Homo sapiens: one gene and its partner. Each later gene encodes a partner of the first gene's protein in a complex. Each region holds a gene or a part of one and is shown in the gene's direction. Other genes may lie near its edges.

Evidence for each region.
Region 2: the proteins of DBN1 (region 1) and ZMYND8 are in contact, whole or in part, in a crystal structure (PDB 5Y1Z), measured with the Homo sapiens proteins. Residues at the interface, in NP_004386.3 of Homo sapiens: Met1, Ala2, Phe6, Ser7, Arg10, Leu11, Leu14, Tyr17, Glu18, Asp92, Ala93, Cys96, Ala97, Ala99, Ser100, Lys104, Glu107, Phe108, Gln110; in NP_001350670.1 of Homo sapiens: Gln167, Pro168, Gly169, Thr170, Gln236, Ile237, Val240, Lys243, Ile244, His247, Trp269, Leu285, Gly287, Phe288, Phe307, Gly309, Gln310, His311, Asp312, Ala314, Thr335, Lys336, Ser337, Ile338.

What each region holds. Positions count from the first base shown.
Region 1 is NC_000005.10:177,466,773-177,482,636, reverse strand, and holds the start of DBN1 (drebrin), read left to right. Parts: upstream 1-9,002; 5' UTR 9,003-9,115; coding exon 9,116-9,201; intron 9,202-9,796; exon of another isoform or gene 9,797-9,861; intron 9,862-10,139; exon of another isoform or gene 10,140-10,426; coding exon of another isoform or gene 10,427-10,518; intron 10,519-13,737; coding exon 13,738-13,793; intron 13,794-14,416; coding exon 14,417-14,529; intron 14,530-14,819; coding exon 14,820-14,894; coding exon of another isoform or gene 14,895-15,009; coding exon 15,010-15,156; intron 15,157-15,304; coding exon 15,305-15,382; intron 15,383-15,574; coding exon 15,575-15,726; intron 15,727-15,801; coding exon 15,802-15,864. UniProt on the Homo sapiens protein: Actin cytoskeleton-organizing protein that plays a role in the formation of cell projections. Required for actin polymerization at immunological synapses (IS) and for the recruitment of the chemokine receptor CXCR4 to IS.
Region 2 is NC_000020.11:47,238,059-47,253,778, reverse strand, and holds part of ZMYND8 (MYND-type zinc finger-containing chromatin reader ZMYND8), read left to right. Parts: intron 1-4,339; coding exon 4,340-4,492; intron 4,493-7,261; coding exon 7,262-7,771; intron 7,772-14,640; coding exon 14,641-15,021; intron 15,022-15,720. UniProt on the Homo sapiens protein: Chromatin reader that recognizes dual histone modifications such as histone H3.1 dimethylated at 'Lys-36' and histone H4 acetylated at 'Lys-16' (H3.1K36me2-H4K16ac) and histone H3 methylated at 'Lys-4' and histone H4 acetylated at 'Lys-14' (H3K4me1-H3K14ac).

The sequences.
Region 1 (15,864 bases):
ACAGCAGAGTTTGAAATAGGTTTGTGTTGTATTGCAGAAAAGAGGCCCCAGAACACTGAGGGAGTGCAGGAGGGAGGCTGGGAGGAGGAGTTGCAGCAGGGCCTAGGGGCGGGGGCCAGGCAAGGGAGGGGCAGAGAGTAATATGGCAGAGATGGGACCCAGTGGCAGGTCCGGGGGATGAGGGATGGAGAGAAGGACAGGAGCGTTGCCAGGCATCTGGCCTATACCAGACATGCTCACGCTGTCTCCCGCGAACCTCCTAGCAACCTTGCGCCGTTGTCTGCAATCACTTATTTCATTTTTTCTTTTTTAACTTTAATTTTTTTTGTTTTTAAGAGACAGGATCTCCCTAGGTTGCCCGGGCTGGTTTCAAACTCCTGGGCTCAAGCAATTCTTCCTCCTTAGCCCCAAAGTGCTGGCATTACAGGTGTGAGCCACCATGCCTGGCCCACTTATTTTCTAGATGAGGCACAGAAAGATTGGGAGACTTGACCAAGGTCACGCTGTCATTGAGCCATGAGCCAGACTAGAATCCAGGCCTGAAGCTGGGTGCGCTGTCCCAGGACTGGCTGGCACTGAGTACCATTTGCCAGCGAGCATCTCTCTGGGAAGCTGACTTCTGCCCGGTACCTGGAGGACTGTAGACCTTGGTGGTGGCGCCGTCACTCTGGGGCTTCCTGCCTCCCACTGATGCCCGCACCACCCTAGAGGGACTGTCATCTCTCCTGTCCCAAGCCTGGACTGGAAAGACTGAAGAGAAGCCTTAAGTAGGCCAGGACAGCTCAGTGTGCCATGGCTGCCCGTCCTTCAGTGGTCCCTGGCATGAGGACCTGCAACACATCTGTTAGTCTTCTCAACAGGCCCTTGGCCCGGTCCCCTTTAAGAGACGAGAAGGGCTGGGCACGGTGACTCACACCTCTAATCCCAGCACTTTGGAAGGCTGAGGCTGGAGAAGGGCTCCAGCTTAGGAGTTCAGGACCAGCCTGGGCAACATGGTGAGACCCTGTTTTGTTTTGTTTTTTGTTTTTTTGAGATGGAGTCTTGCTCTGTCGCCCAGGCTGGAGTGCAGTGGTGCAATCTCAGCTCACTGTAACCTCCAGCTCCCAGGTTCAAGCGATTCCCCTGCCTCAGCCTCCCAAGTAGCTGGGACTACAGGCTTGCGCCACCACGCCCAGCTAATTTTTTTGTATGTTAGTAGAGACAAGGTTTCACCATGTTAGCCAGGATGGTCTCGATCTCCTGACCTCATGATCCGCCCGCCTCAGCCTCCCAAAATGCTGGGATTACAGGTGTGAACCGCTGCGCCCGGCCTGGTGAGACCCAGTTTCTACAAAATATTAAAACATTAGAGGCCAGGGCTGGGCGCGTTGGTTCACGCCTGTAATCCCGGCACTTTGGGAGGTCAAGGCAGACAGATCGCCTGAGGTCAGGAGTTCCAGACCAGCCTGGCCAACACGATAAAGCCCTGTCTCTACTAAAAATACAAAAATTAGCCAGGCATGGTGGCACACGCCTGTAATCTCAGCTACTCGGGAGGCTGAGGCAGGAGAATCGCTTAAACCCAGGAGGCTGAGGTTACAGTGAGCTTGAGATCGTGCCACTGCACTCCAGCCTGGGGAATAGAGTGAGACTCTGTCTCAAAAAAAAAAAAAAAAAAAAAAAAAAAAATATATATATATATATATGTGGCCAGGCGTGGTGGCTCACACCTGTAATCCTGGCACTTTGGGAGGCCGAGGTGGGCAGATCACCTGAGGTCAGTAGTTTGAGACCAGCCTGGCCAACATGGTGAAACCCCGTCTCTACTAAAAATACAAAAATTAGCCGGGTGTGGTGGTGCATGCCTGTAATCCCAGCCACTCAGAAGGCTGAGGCAGGAGAATCCCTGGAACCCAGGAGACAGAGGTTGCAGTGAGCCAAGACTGCGCCACTACACTCCAGCCCGGGCAACAAAGCAAGACTGTCTCAAAAAAAAAAAAAAAAAATTCAGCTGGGCCTAGTGGTGCATTCTTGTGGTCTCAGCTACTTGGGAGGCTGAGGTGGGAGGATCACTTGAGCCCAGGAGGTTGAGGCAGCAGTAAGCTGCCCTCCAGCCTGAGCAACAAAGCGAAACCCTGTCTCTTTTTTAAAAAAAAAAAAAAGGGAGAGAGAGACAAGAAGGGTCTCTGCTGTGTTCTCTCTTGGAATCCTGGAGAATGAGTGCAAAGCTTCGTGTGTGATTTTCATGTTTTTTTTTTTTTTCTGCCTGCCTCGGCCTCCCAAAGTGCTGGGATTACAGGCATGAGCCACCGCACCCAGCCTCGTGTTATTTTCATGATGCCTTGCCGGAGTGACTTTATGTCAGTGCCTGGCATATAGTGGATGCCCAGTAAGTGTTTGTTGAATGATCACGAGGCACCTGTGGGACATTTAGGAGACACATTCAGGAAACAGCTGAAGATTCAAGTCTGGATTCACCTCCACTTCAATTCGGGAATGAATTTGAGACAGGCTCAGGGCAGTCAACATAAATGCTGGTCACTGAGGCCTAGGGAGAGCCAGGAGCAGGGCCCACGCAGGGAGCATCAGGGGTCAAGCAGATGGGATGTGGTTTTCTTTCAACCTGGACATCCTTGGCATGTTAACCACAGAGTAGCTTTCACTTCCACAAGGAAATGTGCTCTCTCCCACTTCTCTTGAACTGTGAAGCCCTCTCCGTCCGTCCTCGGTTCCCATGGATACAAGCGAGAAGGGCACAGGGACGGATGGTAACTGTAGCCGGGAGCCCGTCTGGGAACGCCGAGCAGCACGGCCAGATCTGCCAGTTTATCGACAGCGTCCAGAGGTTCAGATTTGTATGTGAGATCTGGTGTTTGAATATTGGCAACTACATTAGATTTTTTTTTTAATCCTATTAGAAAAATAACAAATGTGGGCCAAATCCAGCATGAGGACGGCCAGGGCCCAGCATAGTGAGGAGGTGAGACGCCGGAACACCAGCATCACAGCACTGGGCAGGAACAGCACGGCCAGGGCAGGAGGACAACAACCTCCAGGGAAGGGGCAAGGAAGCCTGGACAGGGCAAGAGCGTGTCAAGAAGCTGCCGACAATGTCAACCAGGCAGATAAGGCCGAGGAGTCCCTCGTGGCATTTCACAACAAGGTGACATTTGCCAGATCAGTTTAGCCGAGCTGGGGCGGCTGCCAGGGTTAAAGAGGAACAAGGCGGGAGGGTGGGGAGGATGTGGAAGGAGAGAGTGCAGACAGCTCTTTTAAGAGGTTTGGCTGTGGTGGGCCAAGATGACCGCCAAGCTCAGCTGAGAGGCCAGGGTGTGGGTGGCGGGAGAGGCCTGGGAGGCATCTGCTGGAGGATGGTGGGAGAAGATGGGAGAAGTTGGGAGGGGGCCGTAAGGAGAGAGTGGGGTGAAGGGCAGGGGCAAATGCAGAACCGTGGAGCTGGAGCTGGCCTAGAGTGGGGCAGGAGCAGGTGCCAGGCACCTCCTTGAAACAGCCACCCTCACTCCGTAGGCCGGAAACATGATGCAATCACATGTCATTTAATCATCATAACACCTTTGAGAACACATTATTACAGGCATGTTTCAGATGAGGGTACTGAGGCTCAGAGAGGATCAGTGACTTGTACAGAGTCACCCAGATGGAATGGCCTGGACTGCCACTCCAAGGATCAAAGGCCAAAGTGTTCCCTGCTGACCCACCAGCACTCCCCAGCTCCTCTCATGCGTCCCCCATCACCTGGGCTCCCATCCAGACTTTGCCGCTCCACCAGCTGTGTGCCTCCGGGCAAGACACAACCCTTCTTTGAGCCTTGGTTTCCCCATCTGTCAAATAATAGCAGCTGGGCACAGTGGCTTACACCTGTAATCCCAGCACTTTGGAAGGCCGAGATGGGTGGATCACCTGAGGTCAGGAGTTCAAGACCAGCCTGGCCAACATGGTGAAACCTCATCTCTACTAAAAATACAAAAATTAGCCAGGCGTGGTGGCGGGCGCCTGTAATCCCAGCTACTCAGGAGGCTGTGGCAGGAGAATTGCTTGAACCCAGGAGGTGGAGGTTGTGGTGCGCTGAGATTGCGCCACTGCACTCCAGCCTGGGTGACAGAGTGAGACTCCGTCTCAAAAAAATAATAATAGCAACCACAAGCTGCAAAGATCACAGTGTTCCGAAGCTGGGGTGCAAGGCTGTGCGGGGGGAGGCCATGGGGACCGGGAAGTAAATGTCTTCGTGCCAGGCAGGAGAGGCCATTAGCACCCTTGGAGGGGGCAGAGCCCATGGCAGGGGGCTGAGTGGGTAACTGGAGAGGCAGCAGGCAAGGGAGGGGTTTTTCCCAGCTCAGAATGGCTTGAGCTCATTTGGATCAGCAGGGAGAGAGGCGGTGGAGGGCGAGGAACTGTTTTGCCAGAGTACAGAGGCAGGCCCTCATGATTCTGCCACTGCCTCCTCAGTGCAGGGCCCCACATGGCCTTGGTACACACATAAGGTACACACACCATCCTCAGACTCTCCAGGTGGCCCTGCCACAGGAAGGGAGCTGAGGCCCTGGGCTAAAGGGCTGGCCACAGGTCGCCCTTTGAACTTGAGACTGCCTAAATCCAAAGCTGACCCTGAGACTGGAAGAAGAACCCCTCCCAACGGAGGCCTTAAAGGAAGGAGGGGAGGGGACCAGGGTTCCGGGGGTCATGGTGGAACAAGAACAAGCTCGCTGACTGACAGCCTGGGGGAACTCAGGACACCAGCACCAGCCACTTGGGAGATTGTGCGGGGGGAGCCACTTCTGAGCCAGTGAGGACCCCAGGACCAGCCTGGGCCCTCCCGCTCAGGTTTTTGGAGTACTGGAAGATCAACTGAGATTTCACCCAAGTTTCTTGCCACTGACAAAATGACCACTACTTGGGTACGAGGCAGATTAGGTAGGCCTCTCAGCTGCAATTCAAGCTAGTGTAAGCAAAAACGGGGATAATTGAACTGAAAAAGTGAATGGCTTCAGACCTGGCTGGATCCAGGTACCCATGGCGGCTACCGGGACCCTCTCTCATGCTCTCCACCTCTCGGCTCTGCTGTCCTCAATGCTGGCTTCATTCTCAGAAGGCTCTCCCCACTGTTGGCAAGGATGGCCCCCAGCAGCTCCAGGCCCATACCTGGCCAGCTCAGCAGCCCCAGCGGACAGAGGGAGCCTTTCTTTTCTTTTTTCTTTTATTTTTTATTTATTTATTTATTTTGAGATGGCGTCTCGCCCTGTGGCCCAGGCTGGAGTGCAGTGGTGTGATCTCAGCCCACTGCAACCTCCGCCTCCCGGATTCAAGCGTTTCTCCTGCCTCAGCCTCCTGAGTAGCTGGGACTACAAGCATGCAACACCAGGCCCAGCTAATTTTTGTATTTTTAGTAGAGACAGGGTTTCACCATGTTGGCCAGGATGATCTTGAGCTCTTGACCTCGTGATCTGCTCGCCTCGGCCTCCCAAAGTGCTGGGATTGCAGGCGTGAGCCACCGCTCCCGGCAAGGGAGGCTTTCTTAATGGCGCCAGCGAAAGTCCGAGGGCCAACGCCCATTGGACTAACTTGGGTCATGTGTCTGTCTCTGAAGTAGTCACTGGGTCTGACCCTTCCTGGCTTGGACGACATACTCCTGTTTAGAGCTGAAAGTGGAAAGTCTGCCAGAAAACGGGAGGCGGAGCAGGCCTGGCAGGGAGGTCCATGGCACTTCCTCCCCTCATGCCCAGGGCCCCGCCCCCGACTCCACTCCCAGACCTCAGAGCTGGAGCATCTGCAACTTCTGATCAGACTCCAGCCCACCTCACCCCTGCATGCAGAAATAGGGGTGCTACAAGGGGAAGCGGGGAGGGTGTGTGGGGTACCGAAATGACCTGGGACAGACCTGGGTTCCCATTCAGACTTTGTGTCTGAATGGGACACAAAGCTGTGTGTCTCCGGGCAAGTCACTGACTCTCTCTGGGCCTCAGTATTCCCATCTGTAAACTAATAATAACAATCAACACATTGACAGCACCTACTATGTCCTGGTCTCATTTTAAGCACTTCCTAGATACTTTTTGAAAATCCTCAAACTGACCCTAGGAGGTAGGTACCATCACTATCACCCCCATATTACAGTTGAAGATGAGTGATTCAAGATAGGTCAGGCACCAAGCTCAAGGTCACACCATTAGCAATAGACTCCTCAGGAGCAGAGCTAATGTGAATGAACGTGGCTGGCCCGGCGCCGGGGGCAGATACCTGGGAACAGCCATGAGCTTTGTGATGATCAAGGGGCAATCTGTGTGTGTGCTTGGTGGGATCTTGCAGAGGTTGGAAGAGGCCAGAGAAGACTCCACCAGCTCTTGCTGAAAAAGTCTTGCAGCCTCCCCTCAGCCCTAAAACCTTCCCGGAGAGGTGTGGGGGAGCACAGAACAGGAAGGTGGGGGTGGAGGGAGGAGGGTGGGGCTGTGAGGAGGGAGGGAGGGAGGGGGTTCTCCTTCTAAGCCTCCATCCAGTCCCATTTTATTCTCACAACAGGTTATCAAAAGGAAACTCAGAGAGGGGAAGTGTTTCAGCCAAGGTCACACAGCAAAGGCCCAGTTTCTGGATCTCAGTCCTCCCTTGTCTCATCTTTTCCACTCTGGGGATCCAGAAGTCATTGGCCCAGCCTCCCGCTGTGTGTAGGGGGAGCTCATGCTCTGGGGGTGGGAGAGACCGACCTGTCAGTGACTTGAAGGGTGATCGGTTTGGGGGTGGCAGACACGAAGTCCTGGTAGGAGGAACCCACCAGCCTCCCACCCACCAAGGCTGAGTGTGTGGGCTTCAGGGGCAACAGCAGCTGAAAGGAGGCAGGTTCTCAGAGGACAGTGACCAGTGGCCACCCACTCCCACCAGTCAGGGCAACTGAGAACTATGGGTCCACTGAGTTTGGCAAGTTAGGGGTTACTGGTGACCTTGGCCAGAGCAGTGCCAGAGAAAATGCGGGGAGGAGGAGACAGAGGACAGATGTCTGTCTGCATCCTATAGAAATGAGGGGATGAAGATAACCTGGAAGGGTGACGGGTGCGGAGACCAGGGGAGTGGGCTCTAGGGCATGCCAGCAGGGAACACCCTTGCTTCCCTGAAAATAGGGAAAACTGAGTGCAGGGTGTATGGGAACTCTCTATACTATCTTTGTAACTTTTCTGTAAATCTAACACTGTTCTAAAATAGAAAGTTTATTTAAAAATGTTGATGGCAAGAGGTGAGAGTGGGCGTGGCTGGAGAGTTTGTAGGTGGCTGGTGGGGAGGCAGGAATTTGAGGAAGGAAGAGCTTAGATGCATTTAGGGCTTCTGTTTTTTGGATGCAAAATTGAGTGTGCAGGAGGCTGGGGGGTGAGGGGAGCGGGGGGGGCGAGGAGCTGTGAGCTAGGACAAATCAAAGGAAGCTGGAAGAGGCTGAGGCCACAGATGCTCATGGCCAGCCATCTGCTGCCCCTCCCCGGCTGCAGGGTCTCCCTCCTCACCAGAATCAGGCTCTTCATGCCTAAGGGTGGGGGATGGCTGAAGCTCTGTCCCTCCATGGCTCTCCCCACTTCCCTTCCCCACCATGTGTCACCCACTCCCTTAGGGATCCCCATGGCAGGCCAACCACACCTACTGGCCAGTTGGTCTAGGGCACAGGGCCTGGCTGTGTCCCTGCCTGGGTGCCTCACTCTAGTGGTGGCCATGGAGAAATTGCCATGGCCTGTGGTCCCTAGACATAGTGGGCACTGACTTCCCAAGGCAGGGGCCTGTGAGTATTTTGAGTTTTAAGAGGGTTCTCCCAACTCCAAAGCGCCAGGAACACTGCCACATAGGCAGCCCTGCTCTCCTTCTCTTGGCATAGCCAATTACCCAACGCAGAACTCGGAGGCCTGGCTAGAACCACCTCCTCCTCCGCGGTGCGGTTGGGACCAGGTGAAGTTTGCTCAGGGAGGTCGAGGTTGGAGGCTTTGTAGTGGTGGAAAAGGCTTCTAAGCGCTGTGGACGGTTTCAGGGTCCCAACCTAGCAAGGAACGGAGTTCTGGAAGGCCCTGGCATGGTGTCCACTCCCTTGCAGGGGGTACTTTTCTGAGGCCCCCTCCCGTTCTGTGCTTAGAGCTTTAGGAGATAAAGGTGCCAAGAGGCTGGCCCTGAGCGTCCTTGGAGGAGCCCTGCCGTGGGAGTCTGGGGTTAGATGCTGCTTCCGGAACTCTACTTGGGACTCCTCTGGGAGGCGTGAGGCTTGAGAGAGAATGCAAAGGATCTCCTAGCTGGCCCCATCTGAGAGGGCACAGGCGTGGAGGGGAGGAGAGGCCTGGAATGGAGGGATAATGAGCTGGGTAGGGGCTGAGAATGGCCTGGAATAAGTGGTCATGGAGCCGAGATGGGGGGCTGTGGTTGGGAATTGGGAACTGGGATCAGGATGAGACTGGGATGGGTTGGACTGAAGATGTGCCGTGACACATGTTGGGGGGGACACGTGCTAAGCATGGGGCTGAAGCTGGGATGGGAAAGCAACTGGGGTGGATTTGAGGGTGGGATGCAGATGACAGTGGATATGATGGGATAGACTAGGCAAGGACCTCTCAGGGAAAGGAGACGGGCCAGGGGTGGGGTGTTGTGTGAGCTGGGTTGGGATGAAAATGGGTTTAACATGAGGTGGGACGCACCAGGAATGGAGATCAATGAAGCAATGGGTGGGGCGGAACCGGATTGGGACGGGGGGTGGGCGGGGGGAGGTGGGGACGGGACTGGGTTCGGGGCTGGAAGGAGGGCTAGCGCCGAGGTTACGGACGGGGCAGGTGAGGGTTCGGGACGTGGGTGGGGCTGGCCCTGGAGCGGCGCGCAGGGGCGGTGGGTGAGGGGCGCCCGGGGCAGGCCGGGAAGGGGGGGCGGGCCTCCCCCTGGGCCGGGCCGGGGCGGCGCTAGGACCGAGCGAGCGGAGGGAGCGAGCCGGGCGGAGCCAGCGCCCCCCGCCCCCCGCCGGCCGGCTCCCCTCCCCCGGCCGCTGGCTCGCTCGGCTCGCGACGCTGCAGAGGCTCCGAGGCGGCGGCGGCGACTCCCTCTTTCCCTCCCTCCTCCTCCGTCCGCCCGTCCGTCCGCGCGTCTGTCCGTTCGGCCCGGTCCGGCCCGAAGCATGGCCGGCGTCAGCTTCAGCGGCCACCGCCTGGAGCTGCTGGCGGCTTACGAGGAGGTGATCCGAGAGGAGAGCGCGGCCGACTGGTGAGCCCCCCGCCCCCGCCCCCGGCCCCTTTGTCCCCGCGCCGCCGCCGCGCCTTTGTTTCTCTCCCGCCCCGCCGCCCCGCCGCCGGGAAGGGAGGGGGACCCCGAAATGGTGCAGCGGGCCGGGAGGGCCGGGAGGGGCTGCCTTTGTGCGCGCCGGGGGAGGGGCCGGCGGGCCAGGCGGGGCACTGCCGGGCCCCGAGCGCCCGGAGGCGGCCCAAGGCGCGCGGTGGGAGCGGCGGCCGGACGCGGCCCGGAGGCGCGGGGTCCCGATGTGGGGCCCGGGGCCGCGTGGCCCTGCGGGAGCCCATCCCCCACCCTACCCCCCGGGCCCGGGGGACAGGTGTGCACGGGGCGGCCAAGGGCACCTTCGCCACCTTCGAGCGGGCGAGGTCCGGGCGGGGACGGGGCGGGGACCGAGCTAGCGGAGCCAGCGCAGCCTGCCCGGCTCAGCCCGGCCCGGCCACAGCACAAAGGAAAGCGAGGGCGGGGGAGGAGCGGAGCGGGCTGGGGGCCGGGCGCCCCGCCCACCGGGGGGCCTCTCGGAGTGGGCCGCCCTCCCCCCGAAACCTGGGCTGGAGTGAGGTGGAAGGATGTTTGCTGCCACATGGCGACCGCGAAGTGACTCCCTTACCGCCGCGGGTCGCGGAGGAGGCAGGGGTGAGCTCTCCTCCCCTACCTGAAGGGGACTGCGGGGACTAGGCAGCTGGGCTGGGGGGCACCGAGCTGCCTAAGGGGCCAGCTGAGATCCCTGGGAGGAAGCCCTCTGGAGAACAAGTGTGGAGGGAGCCCCCAAAGACGGCTGAAGGGGTGAACAGATCCACCGGCCCCCAGCAAGGGGCACTCGGTCCCTGATGGGGGAGGAGCTGGGCCGCCCCTCACCCCGCCCCCCAGCTGTTGTCTCCCGCTGAGCTGGGGGAGGGGATGGACCACCTGCTCTGGGGCTGGCGGCCCAGGGTGGTGGAAAAAGGAAACCGAGGGGTTCCTCACAGCCCCATCCTGGAATCCTTTAACCCCCCCGTAATACTCTTCTTCTAGGGAAGGTGCCCATCTGGTTCCTAGGCCTCCTCTCCCTGCTGGCAGATGGGAACAGGTTCTTCTTGAGGAAACTGAGGCAAAGAGGAGGGCAGGTCTGAGGGACCCCGCTTGGGCTGGCCTCACCCGCACACTGGGAGGGCAGCCAGGTGGGGACTCTGACCTGGGGGCTTCTGGAGGAGAGGATGAGATGGCTGGGCATCCATGGCATGGTACTGCAGCACTGGCCAGCAGCCAGGCCTGGAGGGATGGACGCGAGAGACAAGCTCTCGTGTCCTGCAGGTCAGTCACAGGAGAGGCCGGCACAGGCTCAGCAGGCAGGCGGCCCACCCATTGTCCCAGCCCTGCCCCAGGGGGGCTGAGATCATGGGAGGAGCTCTGGGCAAGTGGCCGGCTTGGCCTGGTGAAGGAGCTGGCTTTGGGATAAGGCCCCGCCTGGGGAGAAGCACAGCTCACCCCAGAACACCTCCTTTGCCCTCCAGCCTGGAGGGGTGTTGTCTACCAACACCCCATTTTCTCCTAAAAGCAGAGCTCTGGTGGCCTATTGCCAAGGCCACACAACCCCTGTTGCCCCACATCCTGCTCAACACAGGCCTGCCCCCACCCACCCCAGCAGCATCCGTGTGGCCAAAGCGAGTTATTCATCACTGGTGTGCGTCAGCCCCCATCTGGGTTGTGTGTGGGACACACACAGATGCACACATGTACCCTCGCACATGCACACATTCGTTCACTAAGGGCCCAGATAACATTTTGAAAAAGGGGTGTGAGGATCACTTTCTACACAAGAGAATATGAATACCCCAGGGCCCAGCATGGAACCAGGGGTGCAGTGAGGTCTGAAGACTCAGAGGCAGACCCTGCACATAGGTCCAGAGGGAGGGGTGTCTTGGGTAAATTGCTGTCTGCCCCCCGACCCTTACCTTGCCTCCAATGGGGAGGGGTGGTTGGGGGAGTTCACTCCTAGGTGGCAGGGCCTCTGAAGTGCACCACTACTCTGGCACAGGGAGCAGGGGACCCAGGAAATGAGGTTGTGTGGTGGGAAGGGCCACTGTTGTCCTGGTTGTGATATGACTCACTGTGATCATACACAAGTTCCTGGTCCTCTTGGAAAGAAAAGGGATTGGGCCCAGCACTACCTCGGATACTGAAGGCCTTTCTAGCACCACCATCCTGAGAGTGATGGTCCTGCGGGGTCCACCTGCCCTCAGCCCCCGACTCCAGCTCACCCTCCACCCCAGCTCACCCCCCATCCCAGCTCACCCCAGGGTCTCTGGAACTGCCACATTCCAGCTCCCACCTCACGCTAGTTCAGTTTATCTGGCTAGATGGCTTTTGAGTTGGTGTCAATATCACACATACTTCTGGTATGCGGTGTGCTGGACCCCAGGACCCAGAGAGCAGGATGTGCTGATTGACTGAGTCAGCGTTCCTGCCTTCACCAGGCTTACAGCTGGGGGCAGTGTCTGTCTCCAGGAGTTGGAGCTGGTGAGATGTGTAGATGCCTGGTCGCCTACCCCATCCTGATTCCCTGTGGTTTCGCCAGCTTCCACCTGGTGCACCACCAGGCTCGGGGTGCCTCTGATGTGGTTGAGAAGCACTGGTCTTTGTATTCCTGCTGGGATATGGTGGGTGCTCTGGGAGGGGCAGCTCAGGAGAGGCTGCTGGGGGCCAGCACTGGGCTCTGAAGAACGGAAGCATTCCACTGGGAATAGGCGTGGGGTAGAGGAGCAGGTCTTGCCTTCCACGTGAAGAGAACTACATAGGCAGAGGCTTCAGGGTGAGCCCTGTCCAGAACCCTGCTTGGGTCAGGGAGCCGTCCAGTGTGTCCCAAGTGTGTGGTGTGGACAGGGTGGTCCAATGGAAAGGCAGGCTGGAGGGTTTGAACTGGGGTATGGTTTCTGCTGGGGGAGAGCTGCGGCTGGAGCAGGAAGAGGTGGCCGGAGGTGGGGAGCCAGGGGCTGAGGATGGAAGGCACCCCGGGGAGCCTAGGCAGGCCAAGACAGGTCCTCTCAGAGGGAGGCTTGATGTCTACAGCAGTCTCTAGGAACTAGGGTCCCTGGGCTCTGCATTAGTTTCTCATCAGTGCATGGAGAGAGACAGAGCCTGCTTCTCCCAGGGCCCTTTGTTCCCGTGGTGGGTTAGGGCAGCAGGACAGGTGGTGGGCCAGCTGTGCTGGAAGCATCTGTCAGGGCCAGGCTGGGGCTGGGGGTAACAGTTGGACCAGGAGCTCCCAGCCCCACAGCCCACCTGTGTTCCTTCCTGGAGGTAGGAAGCCGGGAATCCAGGAAGGGGAGGGGCTGAGGCCATTTGGCCCTGGCCACAACCTCCTGAGACGTCCCCTCCATCCCTCCCGCCTTCATTTCCTTTGTCCCTTCACTTCTGTCCTTTCTCTTCTTCCTCCTCTCCTGGTTTCTCCCTCTGCTTCTCCCCTCCTCTTTCTCTTCTCCCTTGCCCTCCCTTTCTGCCTCCCCTCCTCACAGCCCCAGCCTCCTGCCTTGGCACCTGGGGAATAGGAGTTTGGAGAAGGGGTTGAGAGCCCTTTCAAACTTCAGGGACAAGGCCCTTCCTCCTAGGCCCCGGCTCTCCTCCCTCCCAGAGGGTCCTCAGCCTGGGCCTGCATGGGGTGATGGAGGAGGCATCTCTGCCTTCCCTTCTGTGCAATGGTTGCTCTGTCACCGCAGCCTATCAAAAGGAGCCAGGGCACACAAAGCTAGGGAGGAGGAGGAAGGAGGAAGGCCACCAGGTCAGCTTTCTGTTAGAGCTCAGACAGAAGGAAAGGCCAGCAGTCTCAGGAAGCCTCAGCCAGGACTGAGGCAGCCTAGGGGCTGGAAGGCCTGGAGCTCAGGCTTGGCCACCCCGGGGCCAGAGTCTGGGCGAGAGTGACTGCAGTGACCTCATCCCCATTTCAGAGAGGCGGAGATTGAGGCTGAGGGCGGGTCCCCAGGGTCCTTTGTGTTCAAGGAGAATGCAGTTGGGGTGGGCCAGTCGTGTGCCAATTGCAGGGTTGCCATGGTTACTGGGGGATGCCCAGAGCTGTTGGGAGCACCAGGTTCTCTCTTCTCCTCCTCCCTCCCCGGGGGAGGGGCAGCGGGGACCAAGGCACGTGCCAGGTAAGTTCCTGGCACTAGCCAATGGGGGATGAGGATCCTGGTAGCCAGGGAACGGTAACCAAGGAACCGTCGCCTTGGAATCTCCATCACACACCCGCTCCACTGGGTTGTAGGCTGCCAGGGCCAGGGCCGGGATGCTGCGCACTGAGCTCGACCAGCCAGCAATTTCTCCCCTCACTGCCTGCGCCCCCCTGACCCAGGCCTCCAGCAGTACCCTGCTGGGCTCCCGCCTGAACCGATGCCTGGCCCTGTTGTCATGGCTACAGCAGGAGCCCTCCCCGTTCCTGTCCTACCCACTCCATGTCCCTCTCCCTCCCCAGAGCCGTCCCCACCCAGAATTGGCGGCCTGGGCCCTGACAGTTTGACAGCCACCCCTCCCTCTCCCCAGGGCTCTGTACACATATGAAGATGGCTCCGATGACCTCAAGCTTGCAGCATCAGGAGGTAGGAATTCCAGCCATTCCCTCGCCGCCTTCTCCACCCCCTCCTCCTGGTTGTTTTCTTCCCCACCCACCTGGCTGTAGGCCACCTCCCTGCCTGCACCCTGCAGCCCCACACTTGTCTGGATCTGGCGGGTGTCCTTCCTCCAGTCATCCCTGTGTCCCCAGGGTGGGGAGGAATCTCAGAGCCTTGTTGAATGTTGGACTTCTGAGGCTGAGCCTCCAACAGGGAAAGTGACTTATCTGAAGCCACACAGCTGGGACACTTTGGGGGAAGGGCCCTATTCACCGCCTTCCCCAGAGCCAGAAGGCTTGATTGTGCCTCTGGGCACTGGCACCTGGTGAGACATGATGATGTGTGAAGAATGAGACCTGAGTGTGAAGAACAAACACTTCCTCAGTCCTACCCCCAAATCAGGCCCTGCAGGAGTCACAGGCAAAGCTACATCCCTGTGCGCCACCACCCCCACACATACCAACACAAAACTGGGACCCACAGACCCCAGAGGCCAGAAGACCCCTGGGGGTGCCTGTGGAGGCCTGGAGGAGTCTTTGCTTTGAGTTCCAGGCTCTTTTTGGGAAGGGTTTAGGAGGCAGAGAGACCTGACACTCTCCTGATTACCCTAGAAGGGGGCTTGCAGGAGCTTTCGGGACACTTTGAGAACCAGAAGGTGATGTACGGCTTCTGCAGTGTCAAGGACTCCCAAGCTGCTCTGCCAAAATACGTGCTCATCAACTGGGTATGCGGCCGGGGCTGGGGAAGGGGGCTGAGGGCCCAGAGCTGCTCATCAACTGGGTATGCGGCCGGGGCTGGGGAAGGGGGCTGAGGGCCCAGAGCTGCTCATCAACTGGGTATGCGGCCGGGGCTGGGGAAGGGAACTGAAGGCCCAGAGCAGTCGCCCTCCCCGTCGGCCCTCTGACACCCGTGGAGAGGGAAGCCCACCCTCTTCCCACCCCGGGGAAGATGCACCCTATCGTGTAGGGCCCCCCTTGTCCTTTCCTGACCCCCTCTTTGCTGGGTACTTTGCAGGTGGGCGAAGATGTGCCTGATGCCCGCAAGTGCGCTTGTGCCAGCCACGTGGCTAAGGTGGCGGAGTTCTTCCAGGTGCGTGTCAGGGGCCAGCGCTCTTGGGGGTGGGGACAGCCACCAGGGTCTGCGTGCTGGGGTGGGGATGGCGGGAGGATGGTGCCGCCTGAGCACTGCCGTCTTCTTGCGGAAGGGTGTCGACGTGATCGTGAACGCCAGCAGCGTGGAAGACATAGACGCGGGTGCCATCGGGCAGCGGCTCTCTAACGGGCTGGCGCGACTCTCCAGCCCTGTGCTGCACCGACTGCGGCTGCGAGAGGATGAGAACGCAGAGCCCGTGGTTAGTGTGTGTTTGGCACCCGTGGGCTCTGCCTGCGTGGCCTGGTGCCCGAGTCTGGCCTGCCCGGTCCCTCTTAGCTCTCACCCTTTAGGTGTCGGGGGTTCCTGGGGCATTCAGCCTGCTTATGCTGGGTCCTTCGACACTGCAGGGCACCACCTACCAGAAGACGGATGCAGCTGTGGAAATGAAGCGGATTAACCGAGAGCAGTTCTGGGAGCAGGCCAAGGTATGGAACCCTGAGCCCGGCCTGGCTGAGCCACCCCTCATGGACCCCATGGGGCAGGTCTGAGTCCCTCACTGCAGTGGCATGGCCCATGCCACGTGCCCCGCCCCCAGCGCTGGGTTAGGGAGGGGCTGGAGGGGCAGGGTCCAGGCGCCTAGGCTCGGGGCCTACCCTTGTTCGCACCGGGGCTTGCAGAAGGAAGAAGAGCTGCGGAAGGAGGAGGAGCGGAAGAAGGCCCTGGATGAGAGGCTCAGGTTCGAGCAGGAGCGGATGGAGCAGGAGCGGCAGGAGCAAGAGGAGCGCGAGCGGCGCTACCGGGAGCGGGAGCAGCAGATCGAGGAGCACAGGTGAGCCTGCCCGCCCGGAGCGCTCCAGGGGCCCCCGGGCGCACCCTGACGGGTGCTGGCTGCTTATCGTTCCAGGAGGAAACAGCAGACTTTAGAAGCGGAAGAGGCCAAGAGGCGGTTGAAGGAGCAGTCTATCTT
Region 2 (15,720 bases), on another chromosome or scaffold:
TACGTGTAGACACGCAGGTGCACACACAGAGCTCAGTTATTCAGGTGAGGTCTAGGTCTCTTTTTATGGACCCTAAGGTTTAGAAAGGTTGTCCTGTTAACACACACACAGGAGTTAAGGCAAATAGTGAGTTTTCTTTACTCACATAGAAGATTGGTCTGATACAGGGGTTCTCAGCCTTAGCTGCCAATTAGGATCACCTGGCAAGTTTATTGTTGGTGTGGTTTTTTTTTTTTTTTTTTGAGATGGAGTCTCATTCTGTTGCCCAGGCTGGAGTGCAGTGGTGTGATCTCGGCTCACTGCAGGCTCCTCCTCCTGGGTTCAAGTGATTCTCTTGCCTCAGCTTCCGAAGCAGCTGGGATTACAGGCAGGTGCCATCATGCCTGGCTAATTTTTGTATATTTAGTAGAGATGGCATTTCACCATGTTGGTCAGGTTGGTCTTGAACTCCTGACCTCAGGTGCTCCACCTGCTTTGGCCTCCTAAAGTGCTGGGGTTACAGGCATGAGCCACTGCGCTCGACCTCCTGGCAAGTTTGTAAAAGGCTGATGCCCAGGCCTTCCCCTCAGCCAATTGAGTCAGAGTCTCTGAGGATGGGGCTCAGGCCTCAGGATTTTCTAAAACTTTACAGGCAATTTTGGTGTGCAGCCAGGGTTGGCAGTCACTGGACTAGTATAGAAGATGGCAGATTTTACGGCTTTCAGGCCAAATCTGGCCCCCACCTGTGTTTGCAAATAAAGTTTACTGGAACACATCCACACCCATCTGTTTATGTAGTGTTCATGGCTGCTTTTGCAACAGAGCCTGTATGGCCTGCAAAGCCTGAAATATTTACTCTCTGGGCTTTTATTTTATTTTTTGAGATAAGGTCTGGCTCTTTTGCCCAGTCTGGAGTGCAGTGGCCTGATCTCGGCTCACTGCAACCTCTGCCTCCTGGGCTCAAGCGATCCTCCCACCTTAGCCTCCTGAGTAGCTGGGATTACAGGCGTGTGCCACCATGCCTGGCTAATTTTCATATTTTTAGTAGAGACAGGGTTTCACCATGTTGCCCAGGCTGGTCTCAAATGTGAGCTCAAGGGAACTGCCCACCTCAGCCTCCCAATTGCAGGGATTACAAGTGTGAGCCACTGTTCCCGGTCCTCTCCAGGCTTTTACAAAGAAAGTTTGTTGGTCTCTTTTGTAAATTTTTTCGTTAACTGTGTATTCTAGTAGTATATAGGAATATTGAGGACACTGATGAATGTGTCACTTGGGTAGCCATGGAGAGTATTTTTGTGAGTATACGTTTCCATCTTTATTCTTGAAAAGGCTGGCTTTTCCCTCTGGAATCTAGCATGCTTCTTCATTTCTGAAAGTGGAAATTCCGAGGGAGGCCTCAAATCCCTCCCCCTTTGCTGTCACATTTGCATGCAACTCAGCTGTTAAGTCCTTGAGTCCTGCCTACTGGAACTCTTTAATCTGGGCTTTTTTTTTTTTTTTTTTTTTTTGAGACAGAGTCTTGCTCTGTCGCCCAGGCTGGAGTGTAGTGGTGCGATCTCGCTCACTGCAACCTTCGCCTCCTGGGTTCAAGTGTTCTCCTGCCTCAGCCTCCTGAGTACCGGGGATTACAGGCACCCACCACCATGCCTGGCTAATTTTTTTATTTTTAGTAGAGACGGGATTTCACCATGTTAGCCAGGCGGATCTTGAACCCCCGACCTCAAGTGATCCTCCCGCCTTGGCCTTCCACAGTGCTGGATTACAGGCGTGAACTGCTGCGCCCGGCATTTCTCTTTTCTTTCTTTCTTTTTTTTTTTAAATAAACTTTTAATTTAAAAGTAAACTTTAGTGTCAAAAATGCAAACTCGGGGAGGGCAGAAAGATCACACACAAGGCTGCCACTTTACACCTGGAGGCTTGCATGGCGGCCAGACAGAGGTGCTCCTCACTTCCCAGATGGTGCGGGGCGGGGCAGAGGCGCTCCTCACTTCCCAGACGGTGCGGCGGCCGGGCAGAGATGCACTCCTTGCTTCCCAGATGGTGGGGCGACTGGGCAGAGGCGCTCCTCCCTTTTCTTTTAGTGTTCCCCATTCCTTATTTTTAAAATTATTTTACCCTATAATTTCTCTTTGTTAAGCTACTTCAGATTTCTTGCCGGACAGAGACGGGTATAAAGAGTTTTCTAGTTCTTTGTCCAGTAAATTTTTTTTTTTTTTGGAGACAGGATCTTGCTCACCCAGGCTGGAGTGCAGTGACGCAATCATGGCTCACTGCAGCCTCAAACTCCTGGGCTCAAGCAGTCCTCCTACTTCGGCCTCCCAAGTAGCTAGGTTTACAGGCGTGCACCACCAAGCCCAGCTACTTTTTGTATTTTTTGTAGAGATGGGGGTCTTGCTATGTTGCCCAGCCTGGTCTCGAACTCCTGGCCTCAAGCAATCCTCCTGCCTCTGCCTCCGAAAGTGCTGGGAGAGGTGTGAATCACTGTGCCTGGCCCCACTGCAGTAAATTTGCACATTCTTCACCCTCTCAGAGGTGGCTGTGTGAATGTCTGCAGTCCTGTCTCTAGTAGCCTGTCTTTAAAGCCCTGATAAGTGTGCACACACACATGCATGCACACAGATACTGTTTTTGCTATTTTTCTTGAATTACAGGGATAGTGTCTCTGCTTGCTTTGAGCACTCACTTCTGGAATCTCCCTGGGTCTGGGAGGGGCAGTCTGTAAGTGTGATTTAGGAAAAGACCCATCTCTTCCCTCCTTTTTTTTCCTTCAAAAAAAAAAAGTCTTGCTCTGTCTCCCAGTCTAGAGTGCAGTGGCGTGATCATAGCTCAGTACAGCCACTAACTCCTGGCTCAAGCCATTCTCCTGCCTCAGCCTCCTGAGTAGCTGGGACTACAGGTGCATTCCACCACACCTGGCTGGGAAAAGACCTCTTTCTAATCTTATCCTGGGGGCTGATAAAATTAAGTTGGAGCAATTTATTGCTTCTGGTCACCTGTGAGTGGATTGGGTGGGGCTTTTGGGAGGCTGCTTCTAGTTACTTTGAAGGAGCTGATTTCTGGGTATGCAGTGTTTGAGAACTCTCCCTTACTGCATGAACAGGAAAGTGGTTGGGTCAGGCCAAAGGAAAAAGGTAGGAGAGAGTGATGGCTTTAAACAGTGCTTCCAGCCCAGCTCTCAGACTAGATTCTGGGGCCTCTTTCACAGCCCAATGAATGGAGGTGGCCTGAGGTATGGAGGGAGCAGGGAGATGAAGCACGAAGTCCAGGGAGCAACCTGATAGCTGTTGGGAACAGGCTCAGAGGTGGCTTCTCCTCTTTGTGGGTTGATTGGATTCCACCTGCTTTCTGACTTATTTTTTGGGATCGGCCGGAGTAGGACAGATGCCTCACACTCGCTTTGGGTGGGTTGGAGGGGATGCCAGAGGGTGGCAGGCACAGTGGAGGACAGTAGGCCCCACCTGCAGAGTTGCTTGTTGCTTTCTGGACCTTTGCAGCCACTGAAACTCTTAATATTTTGGGGGCACTGGAGTCGGTGGGAGAGGAATCCAAGAAATGTAAGCTCACTGACTTTGGAATCTGTCCTGCTGGTCCTACAAAGAGCCCTCGAAGAAGTGAGGGGACAGGACCTCCGGCCTGAGTCACCCCCCAGAGGCCTCTGCCTGGGAACTAGGCTGAGGACCTTGGACTCTTACTTGAGCGAGACCTGTTAGACAGAGGTTGAGTATCCAGGGCTAATCTGTTCCCCTTGCCTCACATAGATGCTGTGAGCCACAACACACTGGCTGGAAGGTCTGCCTATCTTATATTCCCTGCCCTTTCTAGTTTCCACCCCAGACTAGGTCCACTGAGAATGAAAAATGAAGCCTCTGTGGCAAATAGGCATTTAGGGCCCCCAATTATCAGGGTGTTTTCGAGGGGGTCGCCATCTTTCTTGGATACAAGTCCTCTTCAATCTGGACCTGAAGTTACAAGTACACCTTGACCAGGCTCAGTGTTGCTTTGTTCACTGAAATTGAGATTGAATATCTGCCCATAACCTTTGTCTTTGGAGGGTCCCTAATGATGTTGACTTCCACACACTGAGCCATCTGGCTGGGATTGTCCATTTTAAATATTGAAAGTCACCCAGACGATTGTTCAGTGGACTGTTTAAACCTGCCAAACGTGTTCACGTGGGCCATTATCTTCATGTCACCCCATTTGGTTGAGCAGATGATATTGTTGGGATGAATGACAAAAAAAGTATCTCCCCCTCCCCCATGTTCTAAAATGTGTGTTTTGCTCTGACTTTGCAAGGACGAAGCTCCGTGATGAGGATGGTGTGTGCCTGATCTTACGAGGGTGTGATGGTTTCTTTCAGATCGAAGCAAAGCTGAGATGGATTTGAAGGAGCTGAGCGAGTCGGTCCAGCAACAGTCCACCCCTGTTCCTCTCATCTCTCCCAAGCGCCAGATTCGTAGCAGGTTCCAGCTGAATCTTGACAAGACCATAGAGAGTTGCAAAGCACAATTAGGTATACCTTTGGTTTTGTTTTTTTTTTCCAGCAGTATCATTGTTATCATTACTGGTAGGGATACCACCTGGATGAAATCAAGGTTGAATCCTGGCTGCTTTTAGCAGCTGCTTTAACTTTCAACTATTTGCTCAGCTAAAATATATTTCCACTCATGGCAAAAGACTTCAGACTTGCTAGTTAATTCAGGGCTTTTTGAACTCATCAGTTTATTCTTTGGTGAAAGCAGTCTGGAAACTCGAGATACAGGTTTGAATCATCAAGGTTTGCAAGCAGAATGAGGATCCTCTGAGTTTTGCCTCTGCTCTCCTCAGTACGCATCAGTGTCTCCACACGAGTAGTGAGTGTGTTCTGTAGGTGTCCGACACGAAACCCTTTCCCTCCAGACTGGTCTCCTCCCCACCGGGCAAACCCTGCTTCTGTAGCTGTTGCCTTTCTTCCTCTTCCCTGTGCTGCCTGCCTTCACACTGCCTACCTGAATCCTGCCTTCTGTGAGGCTGAGCTCAGATCTCACCTCCTCCAGGAAGTCTCCCCTGACTGCCCTCCCCATCTGCCCTCCTCCTTTGGTACTTCATTGCTCGGAAGTAGCAATGGTCCCTTTGTGTGGGGGTGTCCCTCCCAATCTAGACTGGAAGCTCCTTGAGGGCAGGGAGGCCGTTTTATGAGGATTTGCCTTCTCTATGGTACTTGGTCTGTGCACATGGTAGATGCTCTGGAATGTTTGTTGAATAAGTAAGTAAAGCTAGGAGGGCATTTGTAAAGAAGTGGGGGATGGCTGGGCCTCTGGAGAGCAAGCTCCTCTGAGTGTCAGTGGGTGCTCTGCATCTTCAGGTGAGAAAGCAGCTAGAGTTAGGGACCCATCTGGGGCTATCCAGAGGACAACAGCTCCCGTTGGGTTGCCTGTTTGGTGAGGACATTGGGTGGCATGGGTGAAATTTGGCATGCCATTTAAATAATCCTCTTGGGTCCTTCCATGCAGCTGGCCCAACTCTTGATTTGTTTTTATTGCTAATAAGAATTTTATTATTTCCATTTACTGAGTGTTTCCTTGGACACTATGCTAAGCACTGCATATAGATTGTCTTGGGAGGTTGATACTTTTATCAGTCCCATTTTGCGGATAGAGAAACTGAGGCTCAGAGAGATAAATAACTTGTTCAGGGTCACACCAGTAATAAAAACAGAAAAGCAGGATTTGAATTCATGTCCTTTGGACTGCAGTACCCAAGCTTTTCCTATCACATATGTGCTTACACTTTTCCTTCTTGTTTCCAATCATTACCTACCAGTAGCACAAGCCTAGGATCCCAGAATTATACCAGATCTGGGTGTTTGTATTTTGGCTTGTGTTCTTCCTGTGTTGCCCTGGCTAGCCTTGAACTCCTGGGTTCAAGCAGTTCTTCTGCCTCAGCCTCCTGAGTAGCTGGGACCACAGGTGTGCACCACCATGCCTGGCTCGACTTGTGTTTTTGATTGAGCCCTGGTGGAGGCAGATACATTCCCCAATGATCCAGCTGATCCCCCATGCCCCGGGCTGTTCATGGCTCTGGTATTTTTGCAGGTTTCTTTTTGGTGTATACAAGTCGGACAGTGGCACCATTCACAGTGGCCATTGCTCTAGAATGAAGAGATTGCACAGACTTGATTGGGTTTTCTTTCCTCTTTCTAAAAGTTTAGGATATGGTATTATTATCTACAGTATGATGGCATAACATATGGTTGGGGGCAGGAGCCGTAAATGGGTTAAATGGAACTATTGTTAGAAATGTGCTTCTGCCCATTTTTGTTTGTGTGTATGAAACACCTGCTAGTTTGTGCTTCTTCCTTTTGAAAGAGACAGAAGTATGTGACTTCTCTCTTGACTCCTTTACCAGTGGAAGAGCAATGCACACCGAGTGGCAGTTGACTTTCCACGAGTGCAGGGAACAAGAGGGAGGGCTGGGCACCCGGGTCACCTGGAGACAAGTGTGTCCCCCGCCTAGAGGAGCCAGTGGCTTTCCTGTTCCAGCCAATGCCTGGCAGGCTGGTGACCCAGAGCGGCTAGATTTTCCGCTCTTTCATCAGAAGCCCCTGCTTTGATTTCTATATGAAATTTCCTGATTTGTGAGTTGGACAACACATTTATAAATTAAAAGCAGACAAGATACCCTGTGGGCCAAACCAGTGCCTCTCGCATGAAACATGTCTGCAAGCTAGATGTGGCTTGTGGGCTGTTTGCAACCTCTGCTTTAAGGCTTTGGCTTATTTTCTTTGGCCTAGACACAAAGGATCAAGAACTTTAACCCTTTGGAAACCCAAGGGAAGAGTGTTGGTGGGGAGCCAGGAACCCGGGGTTCTGGCCTGGCCTCTGTCTTGTGTCCTAGGGCAGGTGATATCCCTGGGCCTCTGTTTTCTAATCTGTAAATTGGATCAGTTTGAACAGCTTGTCCCTGCTGTTCCCTTCCAGCCCTCTTCATTCTCAATAATCCCAATTAGTTATCAACGTTGCAAAAATTTGGCACCACATGTTTAGTGCCATATAAATTTAAAATCTCCGTTGGTAGGTCCTGTGTCTCCTAACAACCAAAACCCTCTCCCAAGGCAAGTACCACTTGGCAGCCGTAGCCAGTTGCCACTTGAGATTATTACTGGCCCCATTTAGGCCAATGTGATGCGATTTGAAACGTGCTTTTCTTATTCCAGCATTTGGTGTGGAAAAATGTTTGCATTTTTCATCCTGCTCTTTATTTTGTGACTACGCCACATGCTGGGTTTTCTTTTTGAATTTAGGCATAAATGAAATCTCGGAAGATGTCTATACGGCCGTAGAGCACAGCGATTCGGAGGATTCTGAGAAGTCAGATAGTAGCGATAGTGAGTATATCAGTGATGATGAGCAGAAGTCTAAGAACGAGCCAGAAGACACAGAGGACAAAGAAGGTTGTCAGATGGACAAAGAGCCATCTGCTGTTAAAAAAAAGCCCAAGCCTACAAACCCAGTGGAGATTAAAGAGGAGCTGAAAAGCACGTCACCAGCCAGCGAGAAGGCAGACCCTGGAGCAGTCAAGGACAAGGCCAGCCCTGAGCCTGAGAAGGACTTTTCCGAAAAGGCAAAACCTTCACCTCACCCCATAAAGGATAAACTGAAGGGAAAAGATGAGACGGATTCCCCAACAGTCCATTTGGGCCTGGACTCTGATTCAGAGAGCGAACTTGTCATAGATTTAGGAGAAGACCATTCTGGGCGGGAGGGTCGAAAAAATAAGAAGGAACCCAAAGAACCATCTCCCAAACAGGATGGTAAGTGATTGTATCTGTTTCCAGTTTTCTTAATTTGGTTTAGAATCCTACCTCGTACACTTACTATCAAAAGTTATGTGACCCTTAAAGAAACAAATCAGAAGTTATGTGACCCTCTAACACACTGAGAGAGAGGCACAGTGAAGCTGTGTTTGGTTTAAGGTTGCCTAGCTAGTCATAGAACAGGACCTGGACTCAAACATGGGCCTGCCTACCTTTAACCTGCTCGGTATCCAGTATGATTGATTTTGAGTACAGAAAGAGAAGTCTGTTAGAAAATGATGGTTACTTTTAGTGACCAAGTCATTTTTAGTCTGAGCAGCTTCTTTTCCAATATGCTCATTTATTTCCCCAAAGTGTTTGTTAACATTTGGATCTTGTCAAATGGTCCTTCAGTGCTGCATTCCACAGACATCTCATTCTCTTTTGACAAGTCTCAAACGGTTAGGAGTGTTCATTTCAAGCTGGGCATGGTGGCTCACGCCTGTAATCCCAGCACTTGGGGAGGCCGAGGCGGGTGGATCATTTGAGGTCAGGAGTTCAAAACCAGCTTGACCTACATAGTGAAACCCTGTCTCTACTAAAATACAAAAATTAGCGGGGCGTGGTAGCAGGCGCCTGTAATCCCAGCTACTCGTGAGGCGGAGGCAGGATAATCGCTTGAACCCAGGAGGCGGAGGTTGCAGTGAGCTGAGATTGCGCCACTGCACTCCAGTGTGGGTGGCAGAGCAAGACTCCCTCTCTAAAAAAAAAGCAGTGTTCATTTCAAAGGTTTTGATGATTTCAGCTTTGCTTTCCTCCCCTCATGCCACCTAGGCATCTCCAAGTGTATTTTCTTACAGTAGTAGGACAGTATTTGGGTGATTGGTGCCAGAATACTGAGTGCTTCTTAGGGCACTAGAAAATGGAGTATGGTGGATATGTGTATTGGCTTTTTTGGGGAGGGGGGGCGGACAGAATTTGGCTCTTGTCGCCCAGGCTGGAGTACAATGGTACAATCTCGGCTGACTGCAACCTCCGCCTCCCGGGTTCAAGTGATTCTCCTCCCTCAGCCTCCCAAGTAACTGGGATTACAGGCACCTGCCACCACGCCTGGCTAATTTTTGTATTTTTAGTAGAAACAGGGTTTCACCATGTTGGCCAGGCTGGTCTCAAACTCCTGACCTCAGGTGAGCCACCCAGCTCGGCCTCCTAAAGTGCTGGGATTACAGGCATGAGCTACTGCGTCTGGCCTTACTGGCTTTTAATCTTATTTGCATTTAACTTAGCTCAGAGTTTCACAACCTTGCACTTCTGACAGTTTGCCCTGGCTAATTCTTAGTCCTGTGTATTGGAGGATGTTTTCCAGCATCCCTGGCCTCTACCAGCCAGATGGCAACCTTACTTGCTCAGTTGTGGCAGTCACAAATGTGGCAATCAAATATTGCCAAATATCCCCTGAGTCTCAGAGGCTACGGTTATATTCTGAACCAGCAGTGACTACCCCACAGCCTAGTGCAGCCTGGGCATGTTAACAAGCCCAACAAAAGGGGTGTGGGAATGATTGGAAGGATGTCCTTCCCACTGACAAAGTATTCAGCACATTTTTGAGTTGGCTTGGCAATTAGGTTAGAGGATTCAACATGCTCAATAAAGATACTGAAGAATTAACTAAGGGCCCAGAAGAAACATTGCCCCAGGACAAATTACAGGTTGTAGCCATAAAACCTTATGTATGTGGCGAGTGACTTAAGGGATAGCCAGGTTTAAATCTTGACTGTGCCTAACTTCTATCAGGAGCTAACTTGTCAATGAAACCCTTGAATAAGATGTAACTCCATGTCCTTTGGGGTTTCCATTGTCTGGTGGCTTAAAGCAAGTCAGGGATGGGCCTTGAGAATCTTTCTGCTGTGGTTATGGTCAACCTGGGCTGCTCTGGAACCTCAGCTGTCAGAGTGAGAGAGGATTCCTGCAGTTCAGCTAAAGAGAATGTCTGTGAGAGGTACAGTGGAGGAAGAGAGAGATACAGTTACATAAGGGAGGGAGGATAGGCCATCAAACCATCCCGACCCATCTGTTAGATTTATAGATGGCCTCTGAAAAATATGAGTATGTTATGGATTGGGTTTTGAGAGACTGTCTCTGTTGTTGCAGAGAACAATAGGAGTAGCATTTATTTCATGAGGATCGTAGGAATATTTGGGTGCAGATGGCAGTGCTCCTATGAGTGACATATTTATACTGTTCTTTCTTTCTGGAACAGATCTTTTGATTGATTGGTTTTGTGCCCCTACCTCTTCCAGAAAGAATTTGCAACAGATTGACAAGGATACATAACCATATGAAACAAGATGAAAATAAAGACATCCATGTAAAAGGAAAATGAAGGTAGAATAGCAAGTGGTCTGGGGAAAGGTTTTATACAGAAATCTGTACTATTTCAATCTTCAGAGTTAGGGAAGTTGGCTCTGAAAGCAGAATGGGAAACACAGTACCTTAGAAGATCTCATACTTTCCAAAAAAACAAAAAACCATTCTAGTTGATTAAAAGAAGTAGAACTTTTCCTCACATTGATGTCTGAAGGGAATTTCTCCAGGAAGCTTTAGTAGATGGTGGACAATTAAGCTGAAGATGATTCTAAAACACAGTTCAGTTAGAGCAGCTTCCTAAGGCTTGGGGCAAAACCAATTGATCTTAAATTCAGAGCTGATGGTGGTTTGGGTCTTGAAAAATTCTCGTGTCAGACTCCGCTAGAGAGCATCTTTTCAATGATGTGTTTTCACTTAAGAGTTTAGTAAGTGAAGGGCATTTTGGATTGCGCTGTTGTGACCTCCAGCTTACCTTCCACTAGGGATGCAGCTTATGGGTAGAATATGAATCTTCAGATGGCAAAACAGCTTTTATAGCTAATAACCTCAGAACAGAAGCAAAGAGAGCACACTTAGACTCTTCGCTGTGCTTTCACTGGCACATCAGTAATTTCCATCCTTCTACAAAGGGGATGCTAATTTTTCTCTTAAAAAGTCCTTGCTTTATAAATGAAAAACAGTGACCAGTGACAAATTCAGGAATTAAGTAGGTTAATTTGATAGGGCAGCTTCTCAGGTGCTGACCCTTTAAAAAAAAATTCACCCTTTTTTTCCCGCTACAGGTGATTGATTATGTACTCCAGATTTCTGGGACAAATGAAATTTCCTGTAGCCTCATTTTGTCTCCATAAACCATCAGGATTCCTGGAAATTTAAATATTTTGATATCTAAATAACTTCAAACAATTTTGAGCCTGGAATCTTATCGGATTGTATACTCTAGTTCTTTATTTGGCAGAGAGCCAGCTGTGATCACTGCAGAGCAGTAACCCCTCCGCCCTGCTGGCTGTTTGCTTTTGCAAATCAGGAGAGAGAAAACGACCATTTTGCGGTTGCCCTTACGGTGGGGAGACAGGCTAGCTCATCAACAATAACAGTATATTTTTTGGTAATGTGGCAGGAAAGGAAGGCATTGAAGGCACTTACGTGGGTTAGAAGCTCTGCTAAGGCACTGCCCCCTGCCCTCCTCTTAGAAGGGCCCAGTTCAACACCTCATCTCCACCTGGAAGAGGCGGGGACTGTGCCCCATATCTGGCAGGTGGCCCTGGAAGCATCGGAGTTCTTCACTGCAGGAAGCTCTCCTTCCAGACCCACCCCAGGCTCTTGCTGACCAGCTTGGCTGGATTCTCCTCTCTGGGGAAGTACAAGGGCCAGCAACATCTCGATAACCATCGAGAACGCCCTCTGAAGTCGGGATAGTCAGCTTGTCTCTTTCCCTCCTTGGCTTCTTAAAACCCACAGCTTACTGAATGAAAATCCTTGCTGGAGTAATCAGGCTCATGTCTTTTTCTGGGTAATACTGATCTTAAAAAGACAGACATAGGCCGGGCGCAGCGGCTCACGCCTGTAATCCCAGCACTTTGGGAGGCCGAGGCGGGTGGATCACAAGGTCAGGAGATTGAGACCATCCTGGCTAACACAGTGAAACCCCGCCTCTACTGAGAATACAAAAAATGAGCTGGGCATGGTGGCGGGCACCTGTAGTCCCAGCTACTCGGGAGGCTAAGGCAGGAGAATGGTGTGAACCCAGGAGGCGGAGCTTGCAGTGAGCCGAGATCGCGCCACTGCACTCCAGCCTGGGTGACAGAGCAAGACTCCATCTCAAAAAAAAAAAAAAAAGAAAAGAAAAAGAGGCAGACATAATCCTTATTTAAAGGAGTTTGATGTCAGGGAGCATAGTCCAAGATCGGGGTGCTGGCTTGTACCTGGGTGTGGTGTGTGTTCCCCAGATATCCTCTCTGGGGCATAGGCTCACCTTACCGGGGGCTGAGGCCTGTGCATCCATAACTGAGCCACCTTTACAAATGAGCTCCCGTGTGGTCATCGCCTCTACGTGCTGCTCAGTGCTTCTGGCTCTAACCTCCCTTCCAGCCCCTCCTCCCTGCCTGCCCTCACTTACTCAAATGCTCTGTATTCCTAGACATATCTTGGCTGATGCTGTTCCCTCCAGATTCTCACTTTCCGCCTGTTGAAATCCTACCCTTTATTCCCCACCAGCCCAGCTCCTCCAAGATGACATACTCCATATGGCAGCGTTTTTCAAACTTGAGTCATTCACATTCATTGTCTTTCCCGTTCTCAAGTCCTGCTTGTATAATTTTTGACTTTTTTTATTTAAAGAATCTTTTTTTTTTTTTTTTTTTTGAGACGGAGTCTCGCCCTGTCACCCAGGCTGGAGTGCAATGGGGCGATTTCGGCTCACTGCAACCTCTGCCTCATGGGTTCAAGCGATTCTCCTGCCTCAGCCTCCCAAGTAGCTGGGATTATAGGCACACACCACCATGCCCGGCTAATTTTTTGTATCTTTAGTAGAGATGGGGTTTCACCATGTTGGCCAGACTGGTTTCGAACTCCTGACTTCGTGATCTGCCCGCCTCGGCCTCCCAAAGTGCTGGGATTACAGGCGTGAGCCACTGCACCCGGCCAAGAATCTCATTCTTTAAAAATAAAATTAAGCTCATTTAAAGCGGGACACAGTAGCACGTCCCGTGTAGTCCCAGCTATTCGGGAGGCTGAAGTGGCTTGCTTGAGCCCAGCCGGGGTGATATAGCAAAACTCTATCTCTTTAAAACATAAAATAAAATAGGCCGGGCACGTTGGCTCACGCCTGTAATTCCAGCACTTTAGGAGGCCAAGGCGGATGGATCATGAGGTCAGGAGTTCAAGACCAGCCTGGGCAAGATGGCGAAACCCCGTCTCTGCTGAAAATAAAAAAAATTAGCTGGGTGCGGTGGCAGGCGCCTGTAATCCCACGTAGTCGGGAGGCTGAGGCAGGAGAATCGCTTGAACTCAGAGGGCGGAGGTTGCAGTGAGCCAAGTTTGTGCCACTGCACTCCACCCTGGGTGACAGAGTGAGAATCCATCTCAATAAATAAATAAAATAAACTCATTTTATTTACTTTTCATTTATTATTATTATTATTTTGAGACGGAGTCTCACCCTGTCACCCAGGCTGGAGTGCAATGGCATGGTCTCGGCTCCCTGCAACCTCCACGTCCCGGGTTCAAGCGATTCTTCTGCCTCAGCCTCTTGAGTAGCTGGGACTACAGGCGCCTGCCACCGCACCCGGCTATTTTTGTATTTTCGGTAGAGACGGGGTTTCACTATGTTGGCCAGGCTGCTCTTGAACTCCTGACCACAAGTGATCCGCCCACCTCAGCCTCCTAAAGTGTTGGGATTACAGGCGTGAGCCACTGCGCCCGGCCTATTAGTAATATTTTTTGAGACGGAGTCTCACTCACTCTTTCTCACAGACCGGAGTGCAGTGGCGCGATCTCGGCTCACTGCAACTTCCGCCTCCTGGGTTCAAGGAATTCTCCTGCCTCAGTTTCCCACCACGTCTGGCTAATTTTTTTGTATTTTTAATAGAGACGGGGTTTCCCCATGTTGGTCAGGCTGGTCTCAAAATCCTGACCTCAAGTGATCCGCCTGCCTCAGCCTCCCGAAGTGCTGGGATTACAGGCGTGAGCCACCGTGCTTGGCCTCATTTTTTTAGTAAAAAAATTTCCCCTGAAAAAAGCATCTGCAAGTATAAACTCATTTTAGACTTGAACACCACCCAATAAGAACAGTAGCACACAGTATACATAAAAGCTGGTGATAGGAATAAATCCAATCAAAACCAAAGCAATGCTACTCAATCCTAGATCAGTACCATTGCGTTGGGGGAAGGTTCTGGCCTTGGGGCAGAATTTGTTTTCCTGGTATTGTCCTGGCTATCAGTACCGCCTTCAAACTTTGTCCTGGAGGGAATCAGAAGAGATGAAAAGAATACTTTTCTTTCTGGGTGACTGAGTGTTACTGCTTTGGCCATTGGGAGGCCATCTGGCTCTTTGGAGGTATTGCTTTCTACGTTCCCTAGCCAAAGAATTGCTCTTCCTGTCTGGATTGACTTCCGCTGGGCCCTTCTCAAGGTGCCGACTAGATTTTAACTTTGCGAAAAGGGCGTGAACATTGAATCTGTTCGCCCACCGCATTGTCCACTAGGTGTAGGGGAGCTTGAGCGCAGGAGCCGGGTCTTGTTTGCCTCATTCTCCCCTAGAGGTCTTGACTTGTATCTCAGATGTGGGCCGGCGCTCAGTAAAGGAGGCCGCTGCTCGCGGAGATGGAAGACGCCGCAGAAGTGGCCTCAGCGTTAGGTGAGAATGTACTCCTCCAGCGCGGTGTGCTTGGCACGTCGAATTGGTTCGGCATTCCTGGCTTTCATAGGTTTTACCCAGAACTTGGTGGCGTCAAGACCGTGCAGGTGAACCTGAGTGAAATCCGGTTTTTGTTTGTTTTTTCTTCATGCATTGGCTAGTTGTAGGTAAAACTCCACCATCCACGACGGTGGGCAGCCATTCTCCCCCGGAAACACCGGTGCTCACCCGCTCTTCCGCCCAAACTTCCGCGGCTGGCGCCACAGCCACCACCAGCACGTCCTCCACGGTCACCGTCACGGCCCCGGCCCCCGCCGCCACAGGAAGCCCAGTGAAAAAGCAGAGGCCGCTTTTACCGAAGGAGACTGCCCCGGCCGTGCAGCGGGTCGTGTGGAACTCATCAAGTAAGTTTCAAACGTCCTCCCAAAAGTGGCACATGCAGAAGATGCAGCGTCAGCAGCAGCAGCAGCAGCAGCAAAACCAGCAGCAGCAGCCTCAGTCTTCCCAGGGGACGAGATATCAGACCAGACAGGCTGTGAAAGGTACCGAGCCTCCCCTTCTGTTCTCCGTGGCGCCCGCTCCCATTTTGCCACATCGACAGGAGAAAGTCATTGCTCTTTTATTTTTTTTTTTTAGTTCTCGTTTGTTTCCGGGCCATTGTATCTTGAAGGCCTTGCACATTCCATTTGGCATTATTTTTAAAAATTGTTTTGCTACTTGCTTTTTTACTTTCAAAAAGTTTTTTTTGTTCATTTTATAAATGATACATGCATATATTCTCCTTAAAAAGGGGGCAGAAAGTTTTACATAAAAGTCTGTTATCCCGTTTACCTTCCATTTCATTCTCTTCCCTTCCACAGTGGCCAGTATCAACCGTTGTAAAAGCTTTTCTATGCATGTATGCATGTATATGTATATATACATATCTGTATGTATATATGTGCGCATCATGTATATGATGCCATAAAATTAGTCCTTTTTCCCCCCTTTTTTTCTTTTTTAAAACATAAAAATGGTACCATACTTGCTTTTTTCCCCCACCCATCAGCATGTTTTGGAGGTCCATCCACATCAGCACATACAGCCCTGCCTTGTTCTTTTGGACTGCTGCATAGTATTTCATAGTTTATTTAAAGCATTCCTCTACTAATGGGCATTTAGGTTGCTTTCAGTTTTTTTTCTACTGTGAGCAGTGCTGCAATGAATATCTTTGTATAAATTTCCTTGTGCACATGAGGGAA